2 linked regions of the Homo sapiens genome follow. The protein of the gene in region 1 purifies or fractionates together with the protein of each later gene. This does not show direct contact. Each region holds a gene or a part of one and is shown on either strand. Other genes may lie near its edges.

What was found. The genes of interacting proteins can lie anywhere in the genome.
Region 2: the proteins of RCSD1 (region 1) and COLGALT1 fractionate together in Homo sapiens (co-fractionation; one large-scale study listed by BioGRID). This does not show direct contact.

The regions. Positions count from the first base shown.
Region 1 is NC_000001.11:167,636,535-167,640,893, forward strand, and holds part of RCSD1 (capZ-interacting protein), read left to right. Parts: intron 1-4,036; exon of another isoform or gene 4,037-4,178; intron 4,179-4,359. UniProt on the Homo sapiens protein: Stress-induced phosphorylation of CAPZIP may regulate the ability of F-actin-capping protein to remodel actin filament assembly.
Region 2 is NC_000019.10:17,554,113-17,559,094, forward strand, and holds the start of COLGALT1 (procollagen galactosyltransferase 1 precursor), read left to right. Parts: upstream 1-1,536; 5' UTR 1,537-1,601; coding exon 1,602-1,861; exon of another isoform or gene 1,862-2,423; coding exon of another isoform or gene 2,424-2,434; intron 2,435-3,314; exon of another isoform or gene 3,315-3,332; intron 3,333-4,982. UniProt on the Homo sapiens protein: Beta-galactosyltransferase that transfers beta-galactose to hydroxylysine residues of type I collagen. By acting on collagen glycosylation, facilitates the formation of collagen triple helix. Also involved in the biosynthesis of collagen type IV.

The DNA.
Region 1 (4,359 bases):
TTAATCATTAATGATTCACGGCATGCCATGCACTAGCTTCTTTTTGTTTTTTTTTGTTTGTTTGTTTGTTTTTAGACGGAGTTTTGCTCTTGTTGCCCAGGCTAGAGTACAATGGCACTATCTCAGCTCACTGCAACCTCCTCCCGGGTTCAGGCAATTCTCCTGCCTCAGCCTCCCAAGTAGCTGGGATTACAGGCATGCACCACCACACTCGGCTAATTTTGTGTTTTTAGTAGAGATGAGGTTTCACCATGTTGGTCAGGCTGGTCTTGAACTCCTGACCTCAGGTAATCCACCCACCTCAGCCTCCCAAAGTGCTGGGATTACAGGCCACCACGCCTGGCCCATGCACTAGGTTTTTAGTTAGATTCAGTAAGCACACACTGAGCCCTTACTGCCTGCCAGGCACTGCGGATCTAAAGGGGTACGTATCTACCAGCTTGCTGACCCTTGAAGAACTTGCAGTCTAAGAGGGGAGACAAACACCTAAACAGATTATTGCAGAGCAGGGATGAGAGCTTACACCCACAGAGGAGGAGCATCAGCCTGGGGCTCAGGGAGGGCTTCCTGCTAAAAATAATTTCTGAGTTGAATCTTGAGGGGTGAGTAAGAGTTAACCAAGGGCAGAAAATTGGGAAGAGCATTCCAATCAGAAAGAGTGACAAGAGCAAAGCTACTGGTGCAAGAAACAGCACGGTGTGCATGGGAAATAATAAGTAGTTCATTCCTGGAGGATAAAGCAAGATAAAGATATTTGAGGACTAGATGGGGAGTACAGGAAATGTAAGTTGCAGTTCCTGCCCTAAAAGGAACTCATTCTATTTGGGGAAACAAGATATACCCAAATGACATGACATAAAAACATGCAAGATAGAATCTTGATAAGTTCTAAGGTATGTGGGCGTTCAAAAGCTCCTCTAATACAAGGTAGAGAAAACTAGCTTCCTGTGCTGGGGATTCCTCCACAAGTGCTGCTCTTCCCCCACCTCCTGGCAGCCCTAGGGTGCAGAACACACAGGAGACCTCAATCTAATGGCAGCACATGCCTGCCTGGGGCCTGCCCCAAAGGCTCCTGCTAGAGAAGTTGATTTGAAATAGGCTCCAGGTCCCGAGGGAATGCCTTTGTTCAAGCTCACCAAAAAGCCACCCCAAGTCCTCCTACCTTCTCTGACAGAAAGAGGGCTCTAGGAATAGACCACACACACACACACACACACACACACACACACACCCCTTCTGTTCCCACTCACACTTCCACCTGCAGCCCCGCTCATTCCTTCCACTATGGCCACACTTCCTGTACACTCCCTGAAAAGTCAGCGTTTCTCCTGCTTGCCCAGAGGCAGACAAGGGATGCACCAGGGTGGACTGTAGAGCAGCAGCCAACCACATGCATCAGCCCAAACCCAGTAAGCAGTGCCGCTGGGCCTTGTGGCTGCTATTGCACAATCCAGCACCCACGCCACAGGTCACAGAGAATTTGCATCTCACAATGTGCCGCAGCAGGCTTTGGGCCTCCTCTGAGCCTCCCCGCTAGACCCTCCACCTTCAATAGTTCATTCCCAATGCGTGAGCTAAATGTACGCTTTTCCCACCCTGCTGGGCTGCCCACCACGACCTCCATCTCTGAAGCACATTCCCAGGATTCAGGTTCCTGGCTTGTCATCCTTTACAGATATGTTTTGATGAATAATGGGAAATTCATTTCTGAGCAGCCACACCGATGTCAGTGTGGGAGAGACCTAAAGCTTGTTGTCATGGTAATTACTACCACTTGTTGAATGCCTACTATATATAGATGCTGTGCACAGATTTATTTCTTTTAATCTTCATAAAGTCATATTATGTCTTCTAGGAAAGGATGCTGAGGCTTTGAGATGCTTAAATGATGTGCCCAGGGTCTAGAAGGTAATTACCAACCTTCTAACATTTGAACCTACCCTATCCGGTGGGATCCTGTCCCTGTTCTTCCTCTTGCTCTGGAGAAACTCTGGCTTCCCCCACAGCACCTGTGTGGGCTCTCGGGGAGACAACAGGCTCCTCAGCCTGGCCAGTCTTCCTCCAGCTCAGGCCAGGCTGTGGTGGAGGCCAGCCAGCTCAAGGCTTGGTGCTTGTAAGGCCTGGCACAGGTTTACTCCGAGCCCTCCTCTGCACAGCTAAAAGACTTCTGAAAGGCCCCAGTTGTGTCTCTGGGTGAAACTGGTGCCCACACCTAAAGCAAAACAGGAAGACTTTTCCAAATTCATTTTTAGGGCTTTGGAGTTTTGAGAGCAAGAAAGAACCATAGCAATTTCTTCCATCCCCTTCATTTTAAAGATGACGAAATTGAACATAAGCAATTTACCAATGGTCGTACTTAAAGTCAGTTAGTAGCCAAGTCAAGAGTTAAAACCAAGGTCCTGGTCGGGGGCGGTGGCTTATGCCTGTAATCCCAGCTCTTTGGGAGGGCAAGGAGGGCGGATCACGAGGTCAGGAGATTGAGACCATCCTGGCTAACACGATAAAACCCCATCTCTACTAAAAATACAAAAAATTAGCCAGGCATGGTGGCAGGCACCTGTAGTCCCAGCTACTTGGGAGGCTGAGGCAGGAGAATGGCGTGAACCCGGGAAGCGGAGGTTGCAGTGAGCAGAGATCACGCCACTGCACTCCAGCCTGGGTGACACAGGGAGACTCCGTCTCAAAACAAACAAACAAACAAAAAGCAAAAACAAAAACAAACAAACAAAAAGGTCCTCTGACTCCCAGCACACTAGGACGCCTTTGACCCGCATGTTCAAATGAACTCATATATAATGACTTTATTGATTTTGCATTTTTGTGTATTGTCTTCTTGGCTCTCTGAAGTCCTCCACACAGTGGTGCTCAGCTCTCTAGGTCTTCCCTAGCAAGCACTACTATCTGTGGGGATAGGGTGGGTAGGGAGAAGAACCATTTTCATTCTCATTGTTTTTTTTTTCTTTGTTTGTTTGTTTTGAGGTGGAGTCTTGCTCTGTCTCCCAGGCTGGAGCGCAATGGTGCAATCTCGGCTCACTGCAACCTCCACCTCCCTGGTTCAAACGATTCTCCTGCCTCAGCCTCCCAAGTAGCTGGTATTACAGGCGCCTGCCACTGTGCTCAGCTAATTTTTGTATTTTTTAATAGAGACGGGGTTTCACCATGTTGGCCAGGCTGGTCTTGAACTCCTGACCTCAGGTGATCCACCTGCCTTGGCCTCCCAAAGTGCTGGGATTACAGGCATGAGCCATGATGCCCGGCCCATTCTCATTGTTTTAACAAATGCCAAGAGACCCAGAGCTGAGGCTAGGAGGGCCCAGCTACCCTAGCTGCAGCGCCACGCCTTGTTCTACTAGGCTTACTTTCTCCGATGCCCTCAAGGGGTCTTTCTGGGGGAGCCCCTTGGCCCCTGTTGTCCAGTCATGCCTGAATCCCCTCACAAAGGCCTGAATTTAAGTACTGGAGAGGAGAAGAACAAGGATGATTCCAAATGCTTGTTTTCCTTGGGGAAACAAATGGGAGACTCAAAGAGATGCCTGGCACTCCAGGCTGCTATACAGTGCGGAAGTGCTGCCCAGGTGGAGAATCTGATGCCAGTGGAGTTGGCAGGTGTATGAGTTTGCGAGGGCTGCTGCCGTAACAGATTACCACAAACTGGGTGGCTCAAAACAACAGAAACGTCTCCTTTCATGGTTCTGGAGGCCGGATGTCTAAAAGCAGAGTGTCAGCAGGACCTCATTCCCCACTAAGGCTCGAGGGGCGGCTCCATTCCATGTTTCTTTTGGCTCCTGGTGGTTGCCAGCTTCCTTGACTTGTGGCCACATCACTCCAGTCTGCCTCATCTTTGCCACACCTTCTCCTCTGTGTGTCTCTTATAAGGACCTGTGTCATTGGATCAGGACCTACGTTGATAATCCAGGATGATCTCTTCATCTCAAAATTGGTAACTACCTCTGCTAAGACTGTTTTTGCACATAAGGTAACATTCACAGGTTCCAGGGATTAGGAAGTGAGCATATCTTTTTTTTTCCTCCTCAAGACAGGGTCTTGCTCTGTTGCCCAGGCTGGAATGCAGTGGCACAATCATGGCTCACTGCAGCCTCAACCTTCCAGGGCTTAAGTGATCCTCTCACCTCATCCTCCTGAGTAGCTGGACTATAGGCGTGCACCACCACACCCAGGTAATGTTTGTATTTTTAGTAGAGACGAGGTCTCACTATGTTGCCCAGACTGGTCTTGAACTCTTGGGCTCAAGTGATCCTCCCACCACAGCCTCCTGAAGCGCTGGGATTACAGGCATTAAACACTGTGCCTGTCTAGGAAGTTATCATAACTTTTAGGGGGTCACCATTCACCCCACTA
Region 2 (4,982 bases), on another chromosome or scaffold:
ATCCGCCTGCCTCAGCCTCCCAAAATGCTGGGATTACAGGCGTGAGCCACTGCACCTGGCCTGTATCATTCTTAAAAATTAAGTTTTAGCGGGGCATGATGGCTCACTGGTAATCCCAGCAGTTTGGGAGGCTGAAGGGGGAGGATTACTTGAGACCAGGAGTTTGAGAACAGCCGGGGCAACATAGCGAGACTCCATCTCTACAAAAAATTTAAAAATTAGCTGGGCGTGGTTGAGTGCACTTGTAGTCCCAGCTACTTGGGAGGCTGAGGCAGGAGGATCAGTTGAGCCCAGGAGGTTGAGGCTGCAGTGAGCCATGATCATGTGATCATGCCACTGCACTCTAGCCTGAGCCACAGAGTAAGACCCTCTCTGTGAAAATAATAATAAGCTGGGCGCGGTGGCTCACGCCTGTAATCCCAGCACTTTGGGAGGCTGAGGTGGGCGGATCAGGAGGTCAGGAGTTCGAGACCAGCCTGGCCAATATGGTGAAACCCCATCTCTACTATAAACAAAAATTAGCCGGGCGTGGTGGCGCGTGCCTGTAGTCCCAGCTACTCAGGAGGCTGAAGCAGGAGAATCGCTTGAACCCGGGAGGCGGAGGTTGCAGTGAGCCGAGATCGCGCCACTGTACTCTAGCCGGGGCAATGGAGTGAGACGCTGTCTCAAAAAAAAAAAAAAAGAAAATAATAATAATAATAATAATAATGTTCAGATGTATTTTTTAAAGTTTTTATTGTTTTTAAAAATAGAGGCACGGTCTTGCTATGTTGCACCACTGCACTCCAGCCCGGGCAACAAAGCCAGACTCCGTCTCAAAAAAAAAAAAAAAAAAGTGTGATACTAAGTCAATCAATTTGAAAATGCGGCTCTAGAGTATTGGAAAACAATCCCTTGACAGCGTTTCCATGAAAACATGGCCCTTGTCTCTGGAAGAGCTTGTGCCCAGAACGGTCCATTATCATGCCCTGGCTCTATTTTCACGCCAACCCTATAGGGTCTCTATGATCTCATTTTATAGATGGACAGACTGAGGCTCACATATAGCAAGCCCAAGGCGGGGACTGAATGTGACGCCAGGTCTGTGGACGTCATGACCTTTATTCTCCACAACCCTCAATGACATCCCTGTGAGATCCAAAACCAGGATGGCAAAACCCACGTTGCAGCAGAGGAAACTGAGGCTAAGGTCTCTTGGGTCCCAAACCAGGTCCTAAGTAGCCAAGTCCGCCTGGTGGCACAGCCCGGGTTTTATACATGGGGAAATTGGGCGGCGCATCTGGCGGAGGTCTCAGTGGTAGGAGGCGCCTGGAGGAAGCGCGGGTTCCTAACCCTAACGCTACCCCTAACATCCCTTCCACGCGCTCCGAGCGCTATGTGCCTTTAAGATCGGTGCGGGGGCGGGGCGTCCTGGGTAGGGCTGCAGGTGACGTCACTCCGGGCCTTGGGACTCGGAGAGCGTCTGGAGGCGGGGCCTGGACTTCACGCCCGGCGCGCTCCTCCCCTTTAAGGCGCGCGGCCGGGCGGGGCCCCTATGACCCCTTTAAGGCGCGGCCAGAGTCCTCCCGCAGAAAAACGACTTAAAGGAGACGCGTGGCGCGATGGCGGCGGCCCCACGCGCGGGCCGGCGGCGCGGGCAGCCGCTCCTGGCGCTGCTGCTTCTGCTGCTGGCGCCACTGCCGCCGGGGGCCCCGCCGGGCGCCGACGCCTACTTCCCCGAGGAGCGCTGGAGCCCGGAGTCGCCCCTGCAGGCGCCGCGCGTGCTCATCGCGCTGTTGGCGCGAAACGCGGCCCACGCGTTGCCCACCACGCTGGGCGCACTCGAGCGGCTGCGGCACCCGCGGGAGCGCACGGCGCTATGGTGAGTCGAGCCCGCTGTCCCCATCAGGCGGGTCACGCGAGCCCCTGCTTGCTGTCCCCATAGGGGTGGGTCCACGCGAGCCCCTGCCCGCTGTCCTCTTCTGGGCGGGTCCGCGCGTGCTTCCTGCTCGCTACCCCCATCGGGACGGTTCTACGCATGCCCCTGCCCGCTGCCCCCATCGGGACGGGTCCACGCGTGCCCCCTGCCTGCTGTCCTCCCATGGGGCCAGACACAGCCCTCCCCACAACACAAGCGGGACCGAGTTCCTCCTGCTGGCTCCTTTGGGGTGGGCTGGGCACCGCTTCTGCCTGCTGGACCCTACTAGGGCAGCTCCGGCCTCACTAACTGGGGCTCTAACTCCCTCTGGGGCACGTACACCTCCAAAGGACGGAGCCCAGAGCCCCCACTGGGGCGTTGCCAGAGGCCACATCTAACAGCAAGCCTTTCTGTGCCGGCTGCTGCCCTTAAGCTTGAACTCAGCCTGGCTCCAGGCCCCAGTCAAACCCCTGCCCTCAGACCGGCGTGGGTGGAGTCCAGGACCAGATGGCCCAGGAGGAAGTGGATGCTTTCTTGGTAGGGAATGGGGCAGAGCTCTGAAGAAACCTTTGACTGGTGACTTCTCACTCCCTGCCTCAGTTTTCTCAAATGGAAAATGGGTCCGGGTGCAGTGGCTCACGCAGTAATCCTAGCAATTTGGGAGGCCAAGGTAAGCGGGTCACTTGAGCTCAGGAGTTCGACACCAGCCTTGCCAACATGGCAAAACCCCGTCTCTAGAAAAAAAATACAAAAATTAGCCAGGTGCGGTGGTGTGTGCCTGTAGTCCCAGCTATTCAGGAGGCTGACGCAGGAGAATCGCTTGAGCCCAGGAGTTCGAGGCTGCAGTGACCTATGATTGCACCACTGCACTCCAGCCTGGGCTACAGAGTAAGACCTGCCTCTAAAAAAAGAAAAAGAAAAGAAAATGAGCGTATTAATATAATTCTCTTTTTGGGTTTGTCTCTGAAGATTATCCAGTTAATGGATGTGGAGCCCTTGGGTCTGGCATGGGCTTGGCTCTCAGTGATTTTATTATCATGATTACTGTCATTGCTGGTGTTATTGTCAACTTAATTTATTGGGCAGAATTAGCTTTTGGCACTACGGTCAAACTAAACTCCCAAATGTCGCTTTTCCTTCCACCTGATTTCTCAGTCTGGATAATCCAAATACACAATTGGTACTTAACAAATGTTTGTTGAATGAATAATTGACTGCAGCCCACTGAAGTGGTGTGGCTCACAGGAGAAGATGAAGGCAGGGTAAGGGATTTATGAGATATACTTTGAGATATACTTTTTTTTTTCTCTCAGACGGAATCTTGCTCTGTCGCCCAGGCTGGAGTACAGTGACACGATCTCAGCTCATTGCAACCTCCGCCTCCGGGTTCAAGTGATTCTCCTGCCTCAGCCTCCCGAGTAGCTTGGGATTACAGGTGCGCACCACCATGCCTGGCTAATTTTTGTATTTTTAATAGAGTCAGGGTTTCACCATTGTGGCCAGGCTTGTGTTGATCTCCTGACCTCATGATCTGCCTGCCTCGGCCTCCCTAAGTGCTGGGATTACAGGCATGAGCCACAGCGCCCTGCTGAGATATACTTTTTTTTTTGATACAGGGTTTTACATCTGTCGCCCAGGCGGGAGTGCAGTGGTGCAATCCTAGCTCACTGCAACTTCCCCCTCCTGGGCTCAAGTGATTCTCCTGCCTCAGCTTCTTGAGTAACTGGGACTACAGGCGTATGCCACTGCGCCCAGCTAATTTTTGTATTTTTTCTAGAGATGGGGTTTTGCCCTATTGGCCAGGCTGGTCTCGAACTCCCGAGCTCAAGTGACCTGCCCACCTCGGCCTCCCAACATATTGGGATTACAGGCGTGAGCCATTGCACCCAGCTGGTTTCTGATATATACATTTCATTTTTTAATATTTTTTATTTATTTATTTTTTGAGACTGAGTCTCGCTCTCGTTGCTGAGGCTGGAGTGCAGTGGCACGATCTCGGCTCACTGCAACCTCCTCCTCCCAGGTTCAAGCGATTCTCCTGCCTCGGCCTCCTGAGTAGCTGGGATTACAGGTGCCCGCCACCACACCCAGCTAATTTTTTGTGTTTTTAGTAGAGATGGGATTTCACCATGTTGGCCAGGCTAGGCTCAAACTCCTGGCCTCAAGTGATTCACCCGCCTCGGCCTCCCAAAGTGCTGGAATTACAAGCGTGAGCCACCATGCCCGGCCTAATTTTTGTATTTTTAGTAGAGATGGGGTTTCGCCATGTTGGCCAGGCTGGTCTCAAACTCCTGACCTCAGGTGATACACCCGCCTCGGCCTCTCAAAGTGCTGGGATGACAGGCGTGAGCCACCGTGCCTGGCCTGATCTATACATTACAAAAATTGCCGTGTGCGGTGGCTCATTCCTGTCATCCCAGCACTTTGGGAGGCTGAGGCAGGTGGATCACCTGAGGTCAGGAGTTCGAGAGCAGCCTGGCCAACATGGCGAAACCCCATCTCTACTAAAAATGCAAAAATTAGCTGGGCATGGTGGTGGGCACCTGTAATCCCAGCTACTCGGGAGGCTGAGGCAGGAGAATTGCTTGGACCTGGTAGGCGGAGATTGCAGTGAACCAAGATTGTGCCACTGCACTCTAGCCTGGGTGACAGAGCAAGACTCTGTCTCAAAAGAAAAAAAAAATTAAGTGACACATATTTGTTAGTGAATGTGGTTTGCAAGATCTTAGATGCTCAGTAATAAAACAGCCAATCACTAATGGGTCTTTCCAAAATCAGCTTGTTTAATCCTTCCACTTCCCAGTAAACTGGGTCCTGTTCCCACCCCCATGTTACAGATGAGGAAACTGACATGGAAAGGGAGAAATGGGCCGGGCGCGGTGGCTCACGCTTGTTAAGTCCAGCACTTTGGGAGGCCAAGGTGGGCGGATCACGAGGTCAGGAGATCGAGACCAGCCTGGCCAACATGGTGAAACCCCGTCTCTACTAAAAATACAAAAAAATTAGCCGGGTGTGGTGGCGGGCGCCTGTAGTCCCAGCTACTTGGGAGGCTGAGACAGGAGAAGGCGTGAACCCGGGAGGCGGA